Linked DNA regions of Homo sapiens: all the other regions are linked to region 1. The links come from fine-mapping of genetic effects on gene expression. A gene starts in region 1. Each other region holds a variant in brackets. All regions are shown on one strand. Distances are from middle to middle. Region 1 holds the start of ULK2 (unc-51 like autophagy activating kinase 2). Region 2 overlaps ULK2 (unc-51 like autophagy activating kinase 2). Region 3 overlaps ULK2 (unc-51 like autophagy activating kinase 2). Region 4 overlaps ULK2 (unc-51 like autophagy activating kinase 2). Region 5 overlaps ULK2 (unc-51 like autophagy activating kinase 2).

The links. PIP is the estimated chance that this variant, and not a neighbour inherited with it, causes the effect.
Region 2: its variant is fine-mapped to the expression of ULK2 in whole blood (INTERVAL, PIP above 0.99).
Region 3: its variant is fine-mapped to the expression of ULK2 in skeletal muscle (GTEx, PIP 0.96). The same link has a PIP of 0.9 or more in sun-exposed skin.
Region 4: its variant is fine-mapped to the expression of ULK2 in whole blood (TOPMed, PIP above 0.99). The same link has a PIP of 0.9 or more in fibroblasts.
Region 5: its variant is fine-mapped to the expression of ULK2 in nasal epithelium (TOPMed, PIP 0.94).

What each region holds. Positions count from the first base shown.
Region 1 is chr17:19,865,878-19,870,877 of GRCh38, forward strand. ULK2 (unc-51 like autophagy activating kinase 2) reads right to left here and starts at 2,059. Exons shown (of 27, transcript NM_014683.4): 1 at 1,451-2,059. The coding sequence starts at 1,540. RefSeq lists an enhancer at 1,176-1,684 and silencers at 1,263-1,442, 1,523-2,112.
Region 2 is chr17:19,792,101-19,797,100 of GRCh38, forward strand. It overlaps ULK2 (unc-51 like autophagy activating kinase 2), which reads right to left. Exons shown (of 27, transcript NM_014683.4): 19 at 3,995-4,182; 20 at 3,522-3,625. Among named protein-coding and RNA genes, the nearest start is that of ALDH3A1, 46 kb to the left of the region's middle. The variant G/A (reference allele first, on the strand shown) is at 2,563.
Region 3 is chr17:19,826,518-19,831,517 of GRCh38, forward strand. The region is part of intron 10 of ULK2 (unc-51 like autophagy activating kinase 2); the gene reads right to left. Among named protein-coding and RNA genes, the nearest start is that of TRG-CCC3-1, 32 kb to the right of the region's middle. The variant AT/A (reference allele first, on the strand shown) is at 2,602.
Region 4 is chr17:19,768,735-19,773,734 of GRCh38, forward strand. It overlaps ULK2 (unc-51 like autophagy activating kinase 2), which reads right to left. Exons shown (of 27, transcript NM_014683.4): 27 at 2,096-5,000. Among named protein-coding and RNA genes, the nearest start is that of ALDH3A1, 23 kb to the left of the region's middle. The variant T/C (reference allele first, on the strand shown) is at 3,057.
Region 5 is chr17:19,817,395-19,822,394 of GRCh38, forward strand. All of the region lies in intron 12 of ULK2 (unc-51 like autophagy activating kinase 2), which reads right to left. Among named protein-coding and RNA genes, the nearest start is that of TRG-CCC3-1, 41 kb to the right of the region's middle. The variant G/C (reference allele first, on the strand shown) is at 2,079.

The DNA.
Region 1 (5,000 bases):
CAGAAAAAAATTTACAAGCGCGAAGGTGTTTTTGGCAAATAAATGTACGGCATTGGGGAAAAATGGAATTATTTTCAATAATTGGAAAGTGATTTCATAAATTATAGTGCAATATGCCAAGATCCTACAACACAACTTCTAAAAATAACAAATATGAAGTCCACATGGTAACTAACATTAAATGAAAAAAGAACAGTTCACAACCACTTCAAAGTTATGGACAAATGTAGAAATAAACTTGGAAGGTGATACAGTTAATTGAAAAGTTATTTGTTAGCTTGGAAGGATTACACCGTGCTTGAGTTCTAAATTATTTTCCTAATAAATGAAAAGTAGGCCGGGAGCCGTGGCTCACACCTGTAATCCCAGCACTTTGGGAGGCTGAGGCGGGCAGATCGGATCACCTGAGGTCAGGAGTTCAAGACCACACTGGCCAACGTGGTGAAACCCCATCTCTACTAAAAATACAAAAAAAAAAAAATTAGGCGGGCGTGGTGGCGGGCACCTGTAATCCCAGCTACTCAGGAGGCTGAGGCAGGAGAATCGCTTGAGCCCGGGAGGCAGCGGTTGCAGTGAGCGGAGATCTCGCCACGGCACTCCAGCCTCGGCGACAAAGCGAGACTCTGTCTCAAAAATAAATAAATAAATAAATAAGAAAAGTAGCATTACTTCATCCGATAAGCAACAAAGTCAGCCCACTTTTAACACGCCCCTTGGGCAACAATCAGAACTGCCACACCCTTTAAGATTATTTCCACTCCCGATATGCCTTTCCAAATTCTTTAGATTCTAAAACCTCGTGTAACTGTACTTGCGAAACAGCAAAGGCTTAAAACAATTTTTTTAAGGCTTAAAGGTGATTTCATGTTCAAGGTGATTGAAAATGAATTGTCCAACCACCTTTCTCACCCGGAGCTCGTCTATCTGACTCCGGGGGGGAAAACGGTACGGGGGCTCTTCGGGGTGCAGGGGACCAGTGCTGGGAAAGGTGACACCTCCCAGGCTGCGAAAGCCTGAGGCTAATGGGACATCCGCCCATTTTCCGCTGGGTCTGTAATTATCAACCTCAAAAGTGACCAGCCCTGGGCACGGGGAAAAAAACCAAAGGTCCATTCACGCCCAACCCTCGAGTCTGCACGGTGCAGTACCGTCTATTTTGGGTCCAGGGTAACCTGGGTGCAAACGCTCCTGCGGGCGGACCGCGGGGTGGGCCCCGGGCACACAGGAGGATCAGCAGCAGCCGGTCGGTAGGCGGAGCGCTGCCAGAGGCTTGGGCCTCACAACAACCCTCACAGGACCAAAACAAACGGCGAGACGGGCTGCGCGCACAATAGCATACCCGGGCGGCTAGCCGAGTCGGGGGTCTCGGCTCGCGGCTGCGCCAAGTTTCAGAACCACCTAGCCCCGTGCCTGCCGCCCGGGGCCCGGCCTCGCCCCGGCCGGCGCTCACCTGGCGGTGCCGCCCCCGGAAGACCACGGCGAAGGCCCCGTGTCCCACGAGATCCCTCTTGCTGTACTCGAAGTCACCCACCACCTCCATGGCCGCGCCCCCGGGGCACACAGCGGACGGGCGGGCGGCGCAGTGCGGCGCAGGTATCAGCACCGCGGCTCCGCGGGCCCGGAGCGCGCCAGCGTGCGGCGGGTCTGGGGCAGCCGCAGCCCCGGGCCCGGGCGGACTCTCATGCCGAGAGACCGGAGCGGAAACTGGGGAAGCTGCCGCGCGGAGCCAGGGTCAGCGAGGCCCGGCCCGGCCCCTGCCGCTCATGGCCCGGCCTGCCGCCGGCCGCTGGCTGTCTGGCGAAGCGGCCTCGGCGCTGCCGGGCCAGGGGTGCCGTCACCGTCACTGTGCGCGCCCAGAGCCGCACACGCGCTCTGAGGCAGTGAGGGGCCCGGTACTCTCCATCCCCAGCTCGTCGGGCCTCCTCGGCCCTCCCCGCTCGGGGCGCTGCTGCGACGGCGACGGCCGCCGCCCTAGAACCCGCACCGCCGCGGCCCCGCGCTTCCCCGCCTCGCGGCGGCGCCCAACGCCCTCGCGCGCGCTACCCGCTCCCGCGCGACTGGCTGCCCTCCGCGACGTCCGCGCGCCTTGAAGGCCGCAGCGCCAGCCGGCTCCCTCCGCCGGGGAAAGGAGTGCGGCCAGGGCTTGGCGCCCGCAGCTGGGCAGATCCTCGGCCGCTCCTGAGGCGGGGACGAAGGGCGCGACCCGCTGCGGCCACAGCGGGTTACGGGCTGCGGGCTCCGTTCTGGGCCTGGGGAGCAGATTCGAGCCGACCACGCCCCGGGCTCCAGGCCGCTGGGAGGCGGACTTCAGAGAAGCGGGTCTTGAACCCCAGCTGCAGGCAGGACGGGATTATCTGCGCAGGGTAGACCCCCAGATTCCTGCCAGAGCAAAGGAGCAACTGCTACTCCAGGCTTTGCCCGCGCTCTGGAAAACCAGAGTTCACGCTGCCAAACTGCCAGCCTTCGGACGCCTCTCGGGGTTTACTCGCTTAGGATCCCTAGAGGGACGGTGACAGGCGGGATTCTGCACCTTTTGGGGGTCCCTTGACTGCGAGAAGCTGGTGACAGCTCAGGGCCCTCTTCGCAGAGAATCGTTTCTGCACACCGACTCAGAATCGCACACGTTTTCAAGGTTCTCCTGGGAGCTCCTAGTGTCAGGCTAGTTTGACCTCGGGCTTACTTCACATGGCCGAAGGGAGCTTTCTTTTCTACCTGATTGTTAAAGCTGTCCAAGTGACAAGGAACAGATTGTCAGGTTTCCCGCAAAGAAGTGTCTTATGAAACCATTTAATAAACAATATGCTTGAAACTACCATGGAATACGCAGGCTCCACACTTGAGTGTGTGTTCGGTTGTATAGGGTATGTGCTTTTGGGGTCTGTCACCACCTCGACTGCCACTGCCTGTCCCTGCAAGCTGATCTCTGAACCATGACAGAGTCAGCTCCAGGATTCTGAGAGAACGCTCCTTCCTCACACGCTCAAAACGTAGGGCCTTGAGTTTCTGCTTCTGCTACTGTGCACGCTTACGTTATCCTGTCCTTACTTACATCTGGCCCAGGTGGTTGTGTTAGACACTGAAAATCTGGAGCCTTCAAAAGTTGACAGCAACTTAAGCAAGTTTGCACATACACCCAAAAATGGATGGAGATGATTCCTTACCTCACTGAAAGATTCTCTACAGTCTATTTTTTTGTTTACTTTTTTTTTTTTTTTTTTTTTTGAGACAGAATCTTACTCTGTCACCCAGGCTGGAGTGCGGTAGCACAATCTTGGTTCACTGCAACCTCTGCCTCCCAAGTGCAAGTGATTCTGCTGCCTGAGCCTCCCAAGCAGCTAGAATTACAGGCACGCACCACCACGCCCAGCTAATTTTTGTATCTTAGTAGAGATGGGGTTTCACCATGTTGGCCAGGCTGGTCTCAAACTCCCAACTTCAAGGGATCAGCCTGTCTCGGCCTCTCAAAGTGCTGGGATTACAGGCGTGAGCCACCACGCCCGGCCTGTTTTTTGTTTTGAGACAGAGTCTTGCTCTGTTGCCCAGGCTGGAGTGCAATGGCATGATCTCGGCCCACTGCAGCCTCCGCCTCCTGGGTTCAAGTGATTCTCCTGCCTCAGCCTCCCAAGTATCTGGGATTGCAGACCTGCACCACCATGCCCGGCTAATTTTTTTTTTTTTAGTAGAGGTGGGGTTTCACCATGTTGGCTAGGCTGGTCTCAAAACTCCCAACTTCAAGCGATCCGCCCACTTCGGCCTCCCAAAGTGCTGGGATTATAGGTGTGAGCCACCTCACCTAGCCACATGAAGGTTTTTTGTTTGTTTGTTTGTTTGTTTTGAGACGGAGTCTTGCTCTGTCGCCCAGACTGGAGTGCAGTGGCACGATCTCAGCTCACTGCAAGCTCTGCCTCCCGGGTTCACGCCATTCTCCTGCCTCAGCCTCCGGAGTAACTGGGACTACAGGCACCCGCCACCACGCCCGGTTAATTTTTTGTATGTTTTTAGTAGAGACGGGGTTTCACCGTGTTAGCCAGGACAGTCTCCATCTCCTGACCTCGTGATCCGCCCACCTCGGCCTACCAAAGTGCTGGGATTACAGGCGTGAGCCACTGCGCCCGGCCACATGAAGGTATTTTTCAGAAACCTCCAATAGGCCCTTCGTTTGGACATGCGTGTCCTGTATTCACAGGCCAAACATGGGCCCCATGGACATATCCATTTGAAAAGCAAAATGTGCAGGATTTCTGACCTCAAGAGTCAGAAAAGAAGTGGGGGCAGGAGGCAGGGGGTGCTTTGCTAAAAAATGTTTAGTTAGGACTATGTTGGTAGCAAATAGCAAACGTCAAATGTGATAAAGTGAAAAATAAAGAATGTAGATAAAGATACAGGTGTGCTTCTCAGAGTTCAAAGTTGGGCTTCAAAAGCAAACTACCCGCAGAACCAGGATCTCAAAGAGAACTGCCTTCCGTCTGTGCCCCTGCTTTGTTCTCTTGCCTGAGATCTCCTACATGGTGGCAATGGCAGCCCCAGTCTCCAAACCAAATTTTTTTTTTTTTTGAGACGAAGTCTTGCTCTGTCGCCCAGGGTGGAGTACAGTGTTACGATCTCGGCTCACCGCAACCTCCGCCTTCCAGGTTCAAGCGATTCTCCTGCCTCAGCCTCCCAAGTAGCTGGGATTACAGTTGCGTGCCACTGCACCTAGCTAAAATTTTTTTTGCTTTTTTAGTAGAGGCGGGGTTTCACCATGTTGGCCAGGCTGATCTTGAACCCCTGACCTTAGGTAACCCGCCTGCCTCGGCCTCCCAAAGTGCTAAGATTACAGGCGTGAGCCACTGGGCCCAGCCACCAAATTCTTAAGGAGGGGATTCTGATCAACCTAACTTCAGCTGGGTGCTGGGCCCTGAACAATCATCGGAAGCCAGGAATGGGACTGAGGAAGGCAGGATCATGTAACTATGGCTGCCCCCAACACAAGCCTGTGGGTGTTCTGAGTCCCCAGAAGC
Region 2 (5,000 bases), 74 kb before region 1:
CTAAAAGTGCCTACACATCAAAAAAGAAGAAATCTTCAAATAATCTAACAATGCATCTTAAAGAACTACAAAAGCAAGAGCAAACGAAACCTAAAATTACTAGAAGAAAAGAAATAATAAAAATCAGGGAACAAATAAATGAAATTGAAACTAAGAAAACAATACAAAAGATCAAGGAAATGAAAGCTAGTTTATTGAAAAGATAAATAAAATTGACAAACCTTTGACCAGACTAAGAAAAGAGGAAACAAGACCCAAAAGCCCTCATGAATGGATTAATGCCATTATAAAAGGGCTTGAGGTCAAAGGACAAGCCCTCTTCTGCCCTTCTGCCTTCCATTATGTGATGATGCAGCAAGACTGTCACCAGATCAAGTGCCTTGAACTTGGACTTTCAGCCTCCAGAATGGTAAGAAAGTAAATTTCTGTTCATCATAAATTACGCAGTCTCAGATGTTCTGTTATAGCAGCACAAAATGGACTAAGACAGATTTCAATATTCACTAAGGTGATCTAATAATGCAATCTCCACCAAAAACCCGGCCAGTCTCTCAGAGCTTGCAGTGAGCCAAGATGATGCCACTGCACTCTAGCCTGGGCGACAGAGCGAGACTCCGTCTCAAAAAAACACAAAAAAACAAACAAAAAAAAACCCAGCCAGTCTCTCTACAGAAACTGACAAGATGATGCAAAAATTCATATGGAAACTCAAGGCACCCCTAATAACCAAAACAGTCTTGAAAAAGAACAAAAAAGAAAAACTCGTATTTCCTGATTTCAAAACTTAAGACAAAGCTACAGTAATCAAGGCAGTATGGTACCAGCATAAATTGACATATAGATCAGTGAAATAGTTAAGAGTCCAGAAATAAACATATTTATAGTTGTATTAGTTCATTTTCATACTGCTATAAATAACTGCCCGAGACTGGGAAATTTATAAAGGAAAGAGGTTTAATTGACTCACAGTTAAGAATGGCTGGGAAGGCCTCAGGAAACTTACGATTACAGTGGAAGGCAAAGGGGAAGCAAGGCACTTTCTTGACAAGGCAGCAGGAAGGAGAAATGCCAAGCAAAGCGGGGAAGAGCCCCTTATAAAACCATCATATCTCGTGAGAACTCACTATCATGAGAACATCATGGGGGAAACTGCCCCCATGATTCAATTACCTCCACCTGGCTCTCCCCTGACACATGGAAATTATGGGAATTACAATTCAAGATGAGATTTGGGTGGGGACACAAAACCTAACCCTATCAATGGTCAACCGAGTTTTGACAAGGCTAGCAAAACAACACAACAGGGAAAGAATAGTCTTCAATGGTGCTGCGACCACTGAATAGCCCATCCAAAAGAATAAAGCTGGATCCCTTCACCACATCATCCATATGAATTAAGTCAAACTGGACCACAGACATAAGCATAAGAGCTACATCTTACACTTTTAAAATTAGAATTATAAAACTCTTGGAAGAAAATACAGAGTTAGGCAAGGTCCAGATGCAATTTAAGAAGGAGTGTATAGGGAAACCCAAAGACAACCGGAGAGACAAAAACAAGGATACCAGAGAAAATTTTAGCCTCTGATACCTACAGCTACAGCAAACACTAAATAAAGCTTAACTCCTGGCCAGATAAACAAAAAACCTCACACTAAAGGCCTATTTAACTCAGTTTTTAAACAAAGTACATCATACCCAGCCTCAATTAAAAGGCATGCTAAAAGGCAAAAGTACAGTTTGAAAAGAGAGAGCAAATCAAACATCAGAACCAGACTCACATATGGCAGAGATACTGGAATTGTTTAATACCACACTGGGAATTTAAAGTAATGATAATTAATATACTAAGGGCTCTAATGGAAAAAGTGGACAACATGCAAGAACAGATAGGTAATACAGACAGAGAGATGGAAACTCAGAGTCAAAAGGAAATGCTAAAAATCAAAATCACAGTAACAGAAACAAAGAATGCCTTTGATGGACTCATCAGTAGACTGGACTTTGCCAAGGAAAGAATCAGTGAGATTGAAGATATGTGAATATCTTCCTGAAACTTCCTGAACTAAAAAGCAAAGAGAAATAAGAATGAAAGAAGAAGAAGAAGAAAAAAAGAACAGACTAAGAACAATGGAGCCAGTGCCCAGCTAGCTCAGTCAGTAGAGCATGAGACTTTTAAGAACAATGAGCCAACTATAAGAGTAGAACATATACTTAACGGGAATACCAGAAGAATGAGAGAGAGAAGCAGAAGAAACATTCAAAGCAGTAATGGCTGAAAAACTTCCAAAATTAATGACAGAACAAAACCACGGACCTAGGAAACAGAAAACACCAAGCAGAATGAATATGAAAAAATCTGCACCTAAGCATATCATATTCAAACTTCGGAGAATCAAAGACAGAGAAAATTTTGAAAGAAGCCAAGGACAAAAACACACCTCACCTACAGAGAACAAGGGTAAGAATTACATCAGACTTCTCTTTAGAAACTATGCAGGGAAGAAGATAGTACAGTGAAATATTAAATCCTACAGTATTCTCTTTGGATTAGAAAGAAAC[G/A]ATGCTGGCTCAGATATTTCCTCCTTTGGATGCTCATGGGGAAAATTAAAAAGTCATAGAGAAAAAAAAAAAAAACAAGGAGATTACAATAGTGATTCTCAAATCTGGGTGTCCACAATAATCACCTGGGAGTGTATTACACATGTTGATTCCTAAAAACCCCCAGAACACTTTGGGAGGCTGAGATGGGTGGATCACGAGGTCAGGAGATCGAGACCATCCTGGCTAACATGGTGAAACCCTGTCTCTACTAAAAATACAAAAAAATTAGCCAGGCGTAGTGGCGGGCGCCTATAGTCCCAACTACTTGGGAGGCTGAGGCAGGAGAATGGTGTGAACCCGGGAGGCGGAGCTTGCAGTGAGCCAAGATTGCGCCACTGCCCTCCAACCTGGGCGACTGAGCGAGACTTCATCTCCCAAAAAAAAAACCCAGAAAATTTAAGCAAGCAAGTCTGGAATACGGAATTACAGTCTAGAATCTCCATTTTGTTTTTGTTTTTTGACACACAGGCCAAGTAATCTAGATATACATGGGTGGTCATGAACATACAGTCTCTGGAGCAACTCCGAAAGGTTCAGGGGTCTCAGTGACCTATGGGTCTTTATAAAATCCAGTTGCTGTAAAGTAAATGCTCAGGAGTACATGTAGGTTTAGGCCAACTTCGACCAGTATTACCCTACTGATAAAAAAAAAAAAAAAAAAAAAAAAAATCTTCGTCAGAACTCCTTCCATTAGTAACGCACAGGCTGCTGCTCATCAAGATACTGAATAAGGTCCTATTCTGAATGGGCTACTGAGAAGGAAGATGAGAGGATAGGGATGGCATCCAGAACTATGAAATAATACATTTGTGTTGTTTTATGCCACCAAGCATGTGATGATTTGTTACAACAGCAGTAAGAAACAAATGCATATGCTAGCAAATTACCTGCCTAAAAAGAAACTACATTTTTCTTACCTATATCCATTGGTCGTTCTGTATTTAAACTGTCTGTGCTGCCCTGATGTCGACATATAGGAGTCTTTCCTTGTTGATCTGATAACTTCCCGGTACTGACAGATCTAAAAAGAATAGTGATGTTTTTAATAAAGGAAAAGTATACTTTTTAAAACTAGAAGGGTTAATAGGAAGTTAGAGAATGAGGAAACAAGAAATAGATACCAAACAATTCAGGGTAGAGATAAACTTCAATAATACAAATAAAGGACAGAAATAGAATATTCAAAAAGTTCAGGAAGAACTATGTACTTACATAGTTACAGGAAGCATCTGTGGTTTTCAGAGATTCTAAATGTACGTGGTACATATCAATAACCATATGGCATAAATCACCCGCTACACTAATGTAGTCTTGCTGCTTTTATAACAGAAATCTATGTTTTACTATTACAGTTTTCATGTTTAATGCTAGAATGGAAACAGTCTTTTACCTGCCAAACACTGCCTTGCTCTGCTGCTCGGCCCGCTGCCTCTCACTTCCTTGCACTAAGAGGCAATGGGCACATTCCCGTGGCTCATTCCCATCTTTCGACTGTTCTTCAGCAGGCCCATGACGAGTAACCAAGGCTAACAGGTTGGAAGATGCTTGAGTTTTAGGGATTTTGAAAGGAGCTGTGGTCTAAAGAGACATATATATATATATATATGTAAACTAGTTAATACGATGCATGAACTATTCAGTACTGGCAGGTTTGTGTGACCCAGTAGTCAGGAGCATGTAGGAGATAGGTCGGGTGGTGGGAAAAATTGTAGAAAGATGCAAACCTTCTTGGAAGGCCGGGAGGTTTTACAAAAGTTAGGATTTGGCTGAAGGCAACCAGATTCTCTTATCTGGTTCCTGAAAGCTTAGGTTAGATAACAAGGGGATGTAAAAAAACTGATCTAGATAAGTTAGTTTACTTAGGCCTTGGAACCTGGCCTTTAATCATCCATGCACAATTACTTACAAGTATGTTGACTCAAGGCCTTTGTCATTAAATCTGTACTAAATAAATGCCTGCAGCACCAGCATGTCAGGGCTGTGGCTGCTACAACTCTTTCTGTGAACGGCCCGGTCCCCTAGCCCGCTCCTTCACTGGATGTCTGTGTTGGAGTGCATTTTTTCATCCATTACTTGGTCAGGGTCTGCGGGTGAGACCTGGCAGGAGTATAGACTCTGGAGTCAGTCAAACCCACTGGCAGCTCTATTTACAGCTTGTGTGACCTTGCACAATTAATTTAAACTCTCTAAGCCTCAATTTCCTTTTTTCAGGATTAAATGGGATCATACACAAAAAGCATTCTGCAAATAAAGTACTTACGCTGCATCTGGTACACAGAAAGTGCTCATTATATTATAGCTATTATTGTCCAGGAGCAGTGGCTCATACCTGTAATTCTAGCATTTTGGGAGACTGAGGCAGGCAGATCACTTGAGGCCAGGAGTTAAAGACCAGC
Region 3 (5,000 bases), 39 kb before region 1:
AGAACTGTGATCACCAGGCCCTTGTTAAGCACCCATGTGAACTACAGCTGTTAATTGTCCTAAGAGGAAATTGATACAGCTGATTTATACAACAAACTATCCTTCGCCCCTACAAGTATTCCTGATGCTGGTTTCACATTAAAAAGAGAAAAAACTGGCCGGGTGTGGTGGCTCACGCCCGTAAGCCCAGCACTTTGGGAGGCCGAGGCAGGCAGATCACCTAAGGTCAGGAGATTGAGACCATCCTGGCTAACACGGTGAAACCCTGTCTCTACTAAAGATACAAAAAATTAGCTGGGCATGGCGGCCGGCGCCTGTAGTCCCAGCTACTCGGGAGGCTGAGGCAGGAGAATGGCGTGAACCCGGGAGGCGGAGCTTGCAGTGAGCCGAGATCGCGCCACTGCACTCCAGCCTGGGTGACAGAGCGAGACTCCGTCTCAAAAAAAAAAAAAAAGAAACTACAAAAACAATACATTCAATAATTTTAAAACCATTCTCCATAATAGTTGTTTCACTATTGACCATAATTCTCATGGTTCAGAGCAACTCTCAGCTTAACTTCTCCCTAATAGGTATAAATATTTCCAACTACATGAACTTAATTTTAGTCCAACTTTACAAAACATTAAGAAAATAGGTATTCAGACCATTTCATCTTTTCCCCGACATGGAAACAATTACAGCTATCCTCTACTGAGTATTCAACATTCACTAAGACAATGAACTGGGTGCTTCACAAACCTTATCTGAGGAAGTATGTCCTCCTATGATGGGTAATAAAATTAAAAGCACACAAAGGCCATGTTTCTTGTCCAATGTCAAAGAGTTAGTAAGGTGAGGGACTAGAATTCAAATTCTAGTCCAACTTATTTAAATACCAATGTGGGTTTCCCTATTATACTATACATTAGCAAACCAAAATCCTGGAGTATATTTCCACAAATCTCTGTTAGTATTACAACTATTACTACAGGAAAAGTCAAACACTTTTTTCCCTAAAAACTACAAGATCAGGGTTAATTTGCTAAGTATTTTCATTAAACATGTCTTAATGATTTCTCTGGTCTGACATTTTCAAGTAGCTGTTTTTACCTAAGATAAGAATTAGGTTGGACCGGGCGTGGTGGCTCACGCCTATAATCCCAGCACTTTGGGAGGCAGAGGTAGGTAGATCACCTGAGGTCAGGAGTTTGAGACCAGCCTGACCAACATGGAGAAACCCCGTCTCTACTAAAAATACAAAATTAACAGGCATGGTGGCACATGCCTGTAATCCCAGCTACTCAGGAGGCTGAGGCAGGGGAATCGCTTGAACCCGGAAGGTGGAGGTTGCGGTGAGCCGAGAACCTGCCATTGCGCTCCAGCCTAGGCACCAAGGGCGAAACTCTGTCTCAAAAAAAAAAAAAAAGCAACTTCCAAAAACTTTAAGATAAACTGATGAGACCCACACAGAGTTACAGAATCAAACTTTCAAAAGACAGAGAGAATCTTGGAAGCAAGAGAGAAGCAACTTGTAATATACAGGGATCCTTAATAAGAATATCAGCCAATTTCCCATCAAAAATCTTGAGGCCAGAAGGCAGTGGGATATTATCTAAAGTGCTGAAAGAAAAAAAAGTTAACTGAGAATTCTACATTCCACAAAACTGTCCTTCAAAACTCAGGAAGAAATTAAGATATCCCCAGAAAAACAAAAGCTGAGGGAATTCATTACCACAAGACCTCCCCTATAAGAAATGCTAAAGAGAGTACTTCAGGTTGAAATGAAAAGAGCTAGACAGTAAAAAGCCACATGAAGACATGAAGATCTCCGGAAAAGATAAATGCACTGGCAATTTAAAATCCAATAGTACTGTAATTTTGGTTTGTAACTTCACTTTTTCACTTTCTACAGAGTTTAAAAGACAAATGCATTAAAATTATCATAAAGATATAATTTGTGATATCAACATAAAGGGGGTATAAAGCAATACAGAAGTAGAGTTTTTGTGTGCAACTAAAGTTAATATGAATTCAGTAACTTTAGATGTTATATGTAATCCGCAGGTAACCACAAGGAAAAATATACACAGAAGGAAATGAGAAAGGAATCAAAACACATTACTATAAAAAACAACACTAAAGAGAGCAGTAATGGGAGAAATGTGGGACAAAAAAGCTGTAAGACATAAAAATAGTAAAATGGTGAAAATCTTTCCTCATCAGTAATTACTTTAAATGTAAATAGATCTCCTTAGGCAGAGACTGGCAAAGTAGATTAAAAGGAAATAATCCAACTATAATCTGTAAACAGAACAGAGACTCCCTTTAGGCCATGTGAGGTGGCTCACGCCTCTAATCCCAGGCAGATCTCTTAAGCTCAGGAATTCAAGACCAGCCTGGGCAACATGGTGAAACCAAAAATACAAAAAAATTAGCTAGGCATGGTGCTGCACATCTGTGGTCCCAGCTGAAGTGAGAGGATCGCCTGAACTCGGGACACAGAGGTTGCAGTGAGCTGAGATTGTGCCACTGCACTCCAGCCTGGGTGAAAGTGTAAGACTCCATCTCAAAAAGAAAAGAAAAAAGAAAAAGAGACTCGCTTTAAATCTAAAGACACAA[AT/A]ATTTGAAAGCAAAATAATGGAAAAAGCTATTCCCAGGCAAATACTAAGCAAAAGAGAAGGGCAAAGTTGACTATCAGACAAAATAGAATTTGAATTGAAAACTGTTATAAAAGACAAAAAGTACGTTAAATAAGGCCAAGTACACTGGCTTAAGCCTGTAATCCTAGCACTTGGGAGGCCCAAGGTGGGTGGATCGTTTGAGTTCAAGAGTTCTAGATCAGCCTGGAAAAAATGGTGAAACCCTGTCTCCACAAAAAATACAAAAATTAGCCAGGTGTGGTAGCTTTGCACCTGTAGTCCCAGCTACTTGAGGGGCAGAGGTGAGAGGATCACTTGAGCCCAGGAGGCAGAGGTTTCAGTGAGCCAAGACTGCACCACCGCACTCCAGACTAGGTGACAGGATGAGACCCTGTCAAGGAAAAAAAAAAGGGGGGGGGCTGGGCACGGTAGCTCACGCCTGTAATCCCAGCACTTTAGGAGGCTGAGGAGGGTGGATCACAAGGTCAGGAGTTTGAGACCAGCCTGACCAACATGGTGAAATCCTGTCTCTACTAAAAATATAAAAATTAGCTGGGCATGGTGGCAGGCACCTGTAGTCCCAGCTACTTGGGAGGCTGAGGCAGGAGAATCGCTTGAACCTAGGAGGCGGAGGTTGTTGCAGTAAACCGAGATCGCGCCACTGCACTCCAGCCTGGGTGACAGAGCGAGACTCCATTTCAAAAAAAAAAAAAAAAAAGGTATTAAATAATGATAGAAGGGTCAATTAACCAAGAAAATTTAAGATTTATAAACAATCAGAGCCCCAAAATACATGAAGCAAACATTGACAACTGAAGTGAGAAAGAGATTTGTACAATAATAGTTGGAGACTTCAATATCCCACCTTCAGTAATGGATAGGATAACCAGATACAGCATCAATAAGGAAAGGGAGGCACTGAACAGTGCTATAAACTAACTGGACCTAACAGACACACGCAGAGTACTCTAGTCTCTGAGAGCAGAGCATATATTTTTCTCAAGTACACATGGGACATTCTCCAAAACAGACCACACCTTAGGCCACAAAACAAGTCTTAATAATTTTTTTTTTTAATCAGAGACAATGTTGCGCTCTGTTTTTTCAGGCTGGAATGCAGTGGTGCAATTAGCTCATTGCAGCATCAAACTCCTGGGCTGAAGTAATCCCTCTTACCTCAGACTCCCAAGAAGCTGGAACTAAAGGTGCATACCACTACACCCAGCTAATTTTTAATATTTTTTGTAGAGACAGGTTCTCACTATGTTGCCCTGGCTAATCTCAAACTCCTGGCCTCATGCAGTCTTCCTTCCTCAGCCTCTCAAAGCACTAAGGTTACAGATATGAGCCACCATGCCTGGCCCATAAATTTTAAAAGATTGTAATCACGGTGACTGATTATCTTTTCCAATCACAATGGAATAAAAGTGGAAATCAAGGGCCGGGCGCAGTGGTTCATGCCTGTCCTTTGAGATTGTTTAAAAAAAAAAAAAAAAAAAACTAGAAATCAGTAACAGAGGAAATAACGGGAAAATCCACAATATGTGGAAATTAAACAAAACACTCTTGTGTTACTCTGTTTTCGCACACTATAAAGAACTACTTGAGGCTGGGCGCAGTGGCTCATGCCTATAATCCCAGCACTTTGGGAGCCCCAGGCAGCCTGATCGCTTGAGAACAGAAGTTCAAGACCAGCTGGCCAACATGGTGAAACCCCATCTCTACTAAAAATACAAAAATTAGCCATGCGTGGTGGCACGCAGCTGTAATTCCCGCTACTCAGGAGCCTGAGACAGGAGAATCGCTTGAACCCCGGAAGTGGAGGTTACAGTGAGCCACGATTGCTCCACTGCACTCCAGCCTGGGTGACAGAGCAAGACTCCGTCGCTAAAAAAAAAAAAAAAACTACCTGAGACTGGCCATTTTATGAAGAAAAGAGGTTTAATTTAGTTCTCCATGGCTGGGGAGGTTTCAAAAAACTTACAATCATGGCAGAAGGTGAAGGGGAAGCAAGCATGTCTTACCATTGCAGAGCAGGAAGGGGATGTACCACACTTTCAAACCATCAGATCTTGTGAGAACTCACTATCACGAGAACAGCATAGAGGAAATCCGCCCCCATGATTCACTCACCTCCCACCAAGCCCCTCCCCATTCACTCACCTCCCACCAAGCCCTTCCCCGTCTCATCTCATTCAAGATGAGATCTGGGTGGGACACAGAGCCAAAGGATACCAACTCTTAAGCAACCATGAGTCAAAGAAGTCATAAAGGCAAATTAGAAAATATCTTGAGACAAATGAAAATGAAAACACAACATACTAAAACTTATGGGATGTAGCAAAAGCAGTAGTAAGAGGGAAAAATATACCTGTAAAC
Region 4 (5,000 bases), 97 kb before region 1:
CAGGGCCTCTCAAACCCACTACCCTTTCAGGCCCCTCTGCTGCTCACCATTGGTGAAGTGGGGCTGTCAGGAGCAAAGAGAATTTCTGGATTTTCTCCTAACATTTTCCCCTACTTTAACCTCCCTTCATCTGTTGAATTTACTGCAAATCTTTCCTAGTCTTTTAGTTTTCCTATACTTAAAAAAACCTTGTTTTTAAAAATTACATAATTAGGCCAGGCACAGTGGCTCATGCCTATAATCCCAGCACTTTGGGAGGCTGTGGGCGGATCACCTGAGGTCAGGAGTTCGAGACCAGCCTGGCCAACATGGTGAAACCGTCTCTACTAAAAATACAAAAATTAGCTGGGCATGGTGGCACGTGCTTGTAATTCCAGCTATTCAGGAGGCTGAGGCAGGAGAATCACTTGAACCCAGGAGGCAGAGGTTGCAGTGAGACGAGATCACGCCATTGCACTCTAGCCAAGGCGACAGAGTGAGACTCCATCTCAAAAAAATACACACACACACACACACACACACAAAGTTAGCCAGCCGTGGTGGCACACACCTGTAATCCCAGTTAGTTGGGAGGCTTAGGTGGGAGAATAGCTGGAACCCATGAAGCAGAGGTTGCGTGAGCTGCGATCGTGCCACTGCACTCCAGCCTGCAGCCTGGGTAACAGAGTGACACTCTGTCTCAAAAAAAAAAAAAAAATTTTTTTTTAATTATATAAGCTCATGGTGAAAAATATCAGCATTATGGAATATAAAATTAAATGTCTCCTGTAATCCTAGCACTTTGGGAGGCTGAGGCGGTGGTTCATTGAAGGCCAGAAGTTTGAGACCAGCCTGGCCAACATGCTGAAACCCCATCCCTACTAAAAACACACAAAAAATTAGCCAGGCCTAGTGGTGGGCACCTGTAATCCCAGCTACTTGGGAGGCTGAGGCAGGAGAATCACTTGAACCTGGGAGGCGGACGTCGCAGTGAACTGAGATCGCACCACTGCACTCCAGCCTGGGTGACTGAACAAGACTCCGCCTCAAACAAACAAACAAGTCTCACCCACCCTCTAAAATAATTCCCATTTTCCAAGTCCATCAGACACTACAGATAGGGAAGGAAAACTTATTCCATTGGACACCCACAGATATATCTTTATCATCTTATAAACACTTAAAATGTATTCAAACCTTTTGTGCATACTTTCATCATATTGTAGGAAAGTTCTCCCAAAGAGACAGGTGTATGGGGGTGCTGTTTTCTTTCTCAGAATGTAAAAGGGATTTATGAAAACAAAACTGTTCGTGCTCAAAATATTCTGGGTTTCTACTAGAAACTAAATCCATTTTCCAACCACAAGGCATTCCATATCAAATCAGCAGCCTGCACTCTTCCTGCTCTTTATGAGAATTCCTACCTAAATCAGTCATCTTTGGTTTAGCTCCAAAGTTTATCAACTCATCTTCATCTTCACTGAAATTTTCCAGAGGAAGTGGAGCAATAACCTCTAGCCACCCAGGGCCCCTCAGAAGCCCTGGCTGTAGGTTTCCCATCATTGCTTCCTGAAGGGAATCCATGTGCTAGACAAGAAGTCACTTTATTGCCCGTGAGACTTGGGAGAGGCCTTCCAGAGATCTGGCCAGGCTCAGCCACTATCTTCTTCCCCAGCCTCTCCCTGTAGTAGCGGGTGGGGGTGCCAGTGTAAACAAGGGCCCCCATGTGGGCTGAGATGGGAACAATAGGACAGAAGGTAGGAGAAGGCAGCAGCTGGGTGGACTTGGTGGCTGGAGATGGGGTTCTACATGCCATCCTCGTCCTGCGTAAGCCAAAGGGGACTGGCACTGAAAGCTAGGCTGGGCAGGCCGAGGTGAGAATGGGAGTGCACGCAGCCTCAGCAGGGCAGCCTCTAAAGGGCTTTCCTGGAGAAAGGGGCTATGTCTACTGCCATCAGTGAAGGAACTGGCCCCAGCAGGCGGCAGGGCCTATGGCAGGGGAGGGTCCTCTGGGCACATCTAGACTTGAGAGTCCTCCCACTTCCCACTGAAACAATTCCCTGCTGCTCAATCTCACTGCCATATGCAAAAACAAGCAAACAGGAACACTTAAAAGTGGGTCGATCAAATGCTTGAGTTTATTAACATGTCTCCCAAGTCTTTTTTACTGGGAGTTTCAGGGTGGTCTCTGAAATCCATTGCTGTTGAGCTCCAACTCCAGGCCCCATGGGGTTGCACCAAGCTGCTCAACCTCACCTGTTTCTTGAAATTTTGCTGCCTTCCACTAGGCAGATGGGTCCAGCAGGAGACATTGGAGCACCAAATGGAAAAGCTCTTCCTTCCTTCCCCTCTTCCTGTACATCAGAAAGAATGCATTAGAAACTCAAGGAGTGAGCATTTGGGCTTCCTAAGGGTGAGACAGTGTGGGGCTCCTGTGGGGAGATGGGTACTCCTGTACCCAGTGTGGCCTCCTGCTCCCACCGCTTTCCAGCTGTGGGGCTTTTCCTTGTGGAAATTACTGTCCAAGTTTGATTTTTCCATCTGTAAAAGGAGGCAAGTAAGGGTTGGTATGAGGATCAAATGAATTAACAATTATCAGACTGACACAAACATTCCACTTAAACAGCCAAATTGACTTAAAAGGGCAACATAGATGTCTGAAGCCAGACTGCCTGGTGGGCAAGCTGGAGAAAGCAACTTCTATGCAAGAACTGTGTCCTTTCAGAAGCTCCAGCCAGAGCGTACGTGGTTGGAGAGAGCCCTGAAGACAGGCCTTGCCCCACACAAACACAGAACAAATTGTTCTCCACCCCCTCCCAAAACAAAACAAAAGCAGTGAAGAGCCACAGAGTGATGACCACTACAACGGATACAGGATTGCTGAGCCCTTCCACGTGCCAGGGGCTGGGCAAAGAATTTCATATTCATTAACTTATTTCTCACCTCAACTCTGTGAGACATGCACTCTTCCCCCACTGACAGATTCGGAGGAGGGGAGGAACTTGCCAAAGAACACACAACTGCACATGGTGGAGCTGGAATTTGAGACCAAGTGGACCACTAAGCTACCTGCCAAA[T/C]TGAGTTGCAGAAACCCCAAAGGAGGCATAGAACACGGTTTCCAATAAACAAGAGCTCATGTGGGCACTTCCTAATGACAGAAGCTAACTGTCCAAGAGCACGACTGTCTTGGGACAGGAGATCATGCTGCAGAGCCCAGGGAGGTCCGCCCTGCGCAGAGAGGGAGTGCAGACCTAAAGAGAGCCACACTCTGTGAAAAGTGGAAAAACCTACAGATTGATCCCACCTGTTCAGAGCAACAGGCACGGCTTCACTCGGGACCACATGTGCCCAGGGGCTCCACAGGGCTGGGTCCTGGCTCTGGCCATCTCTGCACAGCCTCTGCTGGGCCACTCTGTGAGAGGTCACGCTGGCAGCAAGATCTCAGCCTCTGCTCCTTTCCCTAGTACAGTTTGATCTCTGAATTCACTTTGATCTTTTACCAGTTCGGCTTCACCTCTTGCACCAAAGCTGTGATTTCTCAGGGCAAGTTGTCAGCTTTCCCGTATGCAGTGTTTTTCTAGGTGGATTGTTTCTGATGTGGTTTCCTCTGATGCAGGTGAGGGAAGTATCATCTTGACTCCTCCACCAATAAAATTATTCTCACAGGGCTTTACTAAACATGAGACTTGGGAGGGACCCAAGAGCTTGCTTGGCTGCAGATTCAAGGGTCCAGGACTCAGAAAAAAGTGGTCTGAGGCCGTCTAGAAATAGGCACAGATACTTCCAGGATGCATGTAACAATACCAAGTTCTCTGAGCAGTAGCTACTGCCTGCCAAATAATCCTCCTTGAGAAATACTGATCAATCTTGCTTTATTCCAGAAAGAATTTAAGACTGCTTATAGAAAATACGAGGGAGCATAGTTTAAAAAGTGTGAAGTCCTCCTCCAAAACATGTGCTAACCACTAATATCAACATTAAGGATAGCCCGGGCGCGGTGGCTCACGCCTGTAATCCCAGCACTTTGGGAGGCCGAGGCGGGCGGATCACGAGGTCAGGAGATCGAGACCATCCTAACACGGTGAAACCCTGCCTCTACTAAAAAATACAAAAAATCAGCCGGGCGTGGTGGCAGGCGCCTGTAGTCCCAGCTACTCGGGAGGCTGAGGCGGGAGAATGGCATGAACCCCGGAGGCGGAGCTTGCAGTGAGCCAAGATTGTGCCACTGCACTCCAGCCTGGGTGACAGAGCAAGACTGTCTCAAAAAAAAAAACCAAAAAACAAAAACATTAAGGATTTTGGCCGGGCACGGTGGCTCATGCCTGTAATCCCAGCACTTGGGGAGGCTGAGGCTGGTGTTCAAGACCAGCCTGACCAACATGGTGAAACCCCATCTCCACTAAAAATACGAAAAATAGCTGAGCGTGGTGGCGCATGTCTGTAATCCTAGCTACCTGGGAGGCTGAGGAAGAAGAATCACTTGAACCTGGGAGGCAGAGGTTGCAGTGAGCCAAGATTGCGCCAATGCACTCCAGCCTGGGCAACAGGGTGACTCTGTCTCAAAACAAGCCAACAAAAAAATAATAAGGATTCTTCAGATATCTGAGTCCAGGTCCTCATGTCCACTGTGTCTAACTCAACTTATTACTGTGCAGACTGAGGCAATCCAGCCCTAAAAATCCTCTCCTCTCAAGCTCCTGGACGGGACTCTAGTGAGGGCAGAACTGCTGGGCTGGTAATTCCTCTTGGTGGAGACAAAGGAACATGGGACTACGGGCAATAAGTTACTTATCAGTCTTCACTAGAGGTTGTTTCTCTCAACTAAAGTTATCAAAATTGGGTGTTGTAATTTTTAACTTGATATTCCCAGACAAGTGCCAGGAGAGAAGCTGTTGCAAATGCTGAGTGGAGAGGAGAAAGCCTCAGCAGAGAGGCGAGCTGGAGGGAGGGATGGATGCTATCCTTCTCTGGACTGAAGCAGTTACAGGATGGCTGCACAGAGTACTCCTGGCAGGCAGAAG
Region 5 (5,000 bases), 48 kb before region 1:
ATGTAAAAAAATAGACAAATCAGGAAGGGTGCCTGCACTTAAGACCAGAAATGTATTTATAGATTTGGAAAACCTTACAGGTATCCTTGTGTTCCTCTTGTTTTTGTTTTATCAGGGGTAGTAGTTGATTTGTTAGTAGGAGATAGGATAGGAAGGGAAGAAAAGCATGTAAATATATTTAAACAAATACTTAAGAGCTAACTAGCTACGTATCTTTTGTCGTTTATCTAGTGCAAGGACCCTAGTTGACAACTCATTGAATATCTTGATTATACAATGGTTTTCTACAACAATGAACTTCATAGCTTATTGTGTCAAGCCCCTATTAACCTGTTTCATCTTTGCCTTTATTTAAGGAACGGAAAAATACTATATTATGCTCTTTAAACCCAAGCCTTAAATACCTGGTTCACTGCTGCTGCTCCTTTGAATGTCACTGTGCCATGGTATCGGTCACTGATACCACTTATTTTCATGTGTGTGACATGCACTTGACACAATCTCTCCTTATCACTTTTTGAAGAGACTTTGTATCTCAAGGTAATGAAGGGAAGGGAAGATGGAAGAACTAGCACTACTGAGCCTCAACCATGCGCTAGGCACTGTTAAAAGAGCTTTCCGGCAGGGTGTGAATCACGGCTCACACCTGTAATTCCAGCACTTTGGGCCTGTAATTCCAGCACTTTGGGAGGCCGAGGCGGGCAGATCACGAGGTCAGGAGATCGAGACCATCCTGGCTAACATGGTGAAACCCCGTCTCTACTAAAAAATACAAAAAATTAGCCGGGCATGACGGCGGGCGCCTGTAGTCCCAGCTACTCGGGGGGTTGAGGCAGGAGAATGGTGTAAACCCGGTAGGCGGAGCTTGCAGTGAGCCAAGACTGCGCCACTGCACTCCAGCCTGGGCGACAGAGTGAGACTCCGTCTCAAAAAAAAAAAAAAAAAGAGCTTTCCATGTTATCTAACTTTAGCCCATTCACATATAAATAAAGTTCAGACAGGTAATTTGCCCTAGATCACACAATTAAAAAGTAGTCAAGCTGAGATGTGATTCTAACTCCACAATATCTTTCCAGTGGTTTAGGCAGGAACTTTCCCAGTTTCTTCTCCTGCTATTTACAAAATTACCTGCATCTACAATCACCCTGGTCATTCTTTCTCGTAACAGTGGAAGAGATGCTTCTCTTCCATGGGCGCTCCTCTCTCCACCTGTGCTCTGCATTCCATGCTCCTCTATGTCCCCAGTGGCCTAGAACAACTCCCCTCGGCTCCTGACATTTTCATCCTCTCCTTTTGTTATGGCATTTTTTCCCTCTGTAGATAACCATGTTTAACTTTCTCACATCTCAAATCCCTAAAACCCTCTCAAATTATCATCTCTTCTTCATTTCTTTTCTTTTTTCTTTTTTTTTTTTTTTTTTTTTGAGATGGAGTCTCACTGTGTCACCCAGGCTGGAGTACAGTGGCATGATCTTGGCTCACTGCAACCTCTGCCACCCAGGTTCAAGCGATTCTCCTGCCTCAGCCTCTCGAGTAGCTGGGATTGCAGGCATCTGCCACCATGCCTGGCTAATTTTTGTAGTTTTAGTAGAGACGGGGTTTCACCATCTTGGCCAGGCTGGCCTTGAACTCCTGACCTCATGATCCACCCGCCTCAGCCTCCCAAAGTGCTGGGATTACAGGCATGAGCCTATAAACAACATATCTTGAAATTATCATCTTCACTGACTCAAATGTGTCACATCCTATATATCCCTTAATTCAACATAACCCACTCTGTCTTCAACCCTTGAATAAAAATGCCTTTACTAAGATTATCAATAATTTCTATTGTCAAGTCCAGCAAGTATTTCCCGTACTCCTTAAGGTACTTGAACTTTTTGCTCCATCTGTACTGTGGACCATTCTTCTCAACACTCTGCCCCTTCATTCAGTGACCCTGCAATCTCTTGTTTTTCCTACTTCTTGGGGACTCCTTCTGAGTCTCTTTTGTGAGTACATACTTCTCATTTGCCCCTCAAAAAGGAGGAGAAGGAGAAGAGTAGAGAGTTCCCCATGAGCCACCCTGGGCTCTTCAC[G/C]CTTCACTTGTTGTACTTACCCGAGTGACCATGCTCACTGTCCCTCCTACCTTTAACTACCACTCACAGAATGATGGTTCCTACTTTTTGATCTTCAGCCAAAATTCTCTCTGATGAGCTCTAGATCCCTTTGTTCACTTGCCTATACAACACATTCATGCCTGTACGTTAACTCATCACCTTTATATTCCAAAGCACTGCTCCCCAAGTTCCCTCAGAGTGACCTTGCCAGCCGGCCATTGTCACCAGCAAGGTCTCACTCTTCCTCAGGTTCCAAGTTCAAGCAATCTTCAAGATCTGTGCGCTCTTTGCCTTTCTCTTACCTGGCTCTTCTCCTTCCTTACTGCCGCCTTAGTTCAGGCTTCGTTCTCAAAACAGTAATGACGACAACAACAATGATGATAAAATAAAAGGTGCAAGGGTCTCAAGGTGTCCTCTCTCCTCTAGTGGAGACCTCTGTATTTCCTCTCTCACTCCAACCTAGTCCTCCACCCTGCTTTTGGGAGAATCTAGCTAAAAAACACAGTGGATCATATCACTCACTCTAAAATCATTCCAATGGCTCACTGCAACTTTATTTATTTTTTTTTTTTTTGAGATGGAGTCTCGCTCTATCACCAGGCTGGAGTGCAGTGGCGTGATCTCGGCTCACTGCAACCTCCGCCTCCCGGGTTCAAGCGATTCTCCTGCTGCAGCCTCCCGAGTAGCTGGAACTACAGGCGCGCCCCACCACGCCCAGCTAATTTTTGTATTTTTAGTAGAAATAGGGTTTCACCATGTTGGCCAGGATGGTCTCAGTCTCTTGACCTTGTGATCCACCCGCCTAGGCCTCCCAAAGTGCTGGGATTACAGGCGTGAGCCACCGTGTCCGGCCTAGCTCACTACAACTTTTAAGAATGCAGCTGAAATTCCTTTGCTTGACCTCCAAATACTGTCAGGCCTCTGTCTACCTCTCTAGCTTTCTTTTCCCTTCACCCATCACCAATGCTCTCTGCATCCACCAAACTGAACTACTGAGTGCAGCCTTGTTCTTTCTGCAATGATGGAAAAGGCCTATATTTGAGCTATCCACTATGGGAGCTACCAGCTAGCTAAGGCTACTAAGCACTTGAAATGTGGCTGGTGTGAATAAGAAAATGAATTTTAAAATTCACTTAATTTTAACAAATTTAAATGTAAATGGCCATGGAGAGCTAGAGTTCCTTCAGTGGCTCACGCTTCTATGACTTCATGTACGGAAATTCTTCTGCTTACAATATCATTCTTTCACTAATTCTTGCAATCTTTCTTCAAAACTCAGCTCAAACAATCCCCTCTTTTTAGCAGCCTTCCTAAATCCTTAATCTAATTTTGATGTTCCCCAATCACACTCCCATAGGCAATGAAGATACATATACATATGCTTCTGGCAATGACTGAGTTACCTACCTCTTCTCCATACAATTAAATTAAAACCTCCTTAATGTCAGGGACCTGGTCATCTCATTCATTAGTATAAACCAGAACATCACACAAAGTAGGTATTCGATAAATGTTATAAAACGAATAAATAGGCCAGGCGAGGAGGCTCACACCTATAATCCTAGCACTTTGGGAGGCTAAGGCAGGTGGATAACCTGAGATCAGGAGTTCGAGACCAGCCTGGCCAACATGGCGAAACCCCATCTCTACTAAAAATACAAAAATTACCCAGAAGTGGTGGCACATGCCTGTAATCCCAGCTACTCGGGAGGCTGAGGCAGGAGAATCACTTGAACGCGGGAGGCAGAGGTTGCAGTGAGCCGAGATCGCGCCACTGCACTCCAGCCTGGGTGACAGAGTGAGACTCTGTCTCAAAAAAATCACTAAATAAATAAATATTCAAGATTTACCATCTAAATAGCATTTAATCTCTAGTCAGTATCATAATTAAAAGAGTGATTTGGAGTTTTTTTATTGTTTGTAATTTTTTGTTTTGGGGGGGGCCTAGAATTTTTCTGGAATAAAATAGCAGCTAGATATTTACATGAGAATGTAAAAACGACAACGTTATATCACATGCCTGTGTATCTCAAGCCTCTGTATGAGTCTACACCAGTCCTAGAAAGAAGGGGAAGCATGTATGAAATCATCTTATTTTTGGCAGATGATGTTAAATGTAAGGTCTATCAAACCATACCATTTTCTAATCCCACTAACTGGAAACTATATACAAATGTTCGTACTTTCCTTTTTTCCCCTGCTTTCCACTTTATTTCCATTTTTTTTAAAGGCTTCCTAAAATGATGTTTATTGGTTGGTTGGTTTTTGAGACAGGGTCTCTCTGTATCCAGGCTGAAGTGCAGTGGAGCAATCATAGCTCACTGTAACCTCGAAGTCAGGGGCTCAAGCACCCAGCTAATTTTTAATTTTTTTGTAGAGACGGGATTTCACCATGTTGCCCAAGTTGGTCTCAAACTCCTGGGCTCAAGCAATCCTCCCACCTTGGCCTTCCAAAGTGCTGGGATTACAGGCGTGAGCAAGCACACCCAGCTGACCTTATCTTTTTTTTTTTTTTCTTTGAGAGAAAGTCACAAAGTCTTGCTCTGCAGTGGCACAATCTCAGCTCACTGCAATCTCCACCTGCTGGGTTCAAGTGATTCTCCCACCTCAGCCTCCCAAGTAGCTGGGATTACAGGCGCACGCCACCACACCTGGCTAATTTTTGTATTTTTAGTAGAGACAGGTTTTCACCATGTTGGCCAGGCAGGTCTCAAACTCCTAATCTCAAGCGATCCACCCACCTTGGTCTCCCAAGGTGCTGGATTACAGGCGTGAGCCACTGAGCCTGGCCCAACCTTACTTTTTAAAGAACTCTAATGAATAAGACATAAAAAGGATATGTTTATGCCAGTGACTTATTTTATTTTTTATTTTATTTTTTTTTTTGAGATAGAGTCTCGC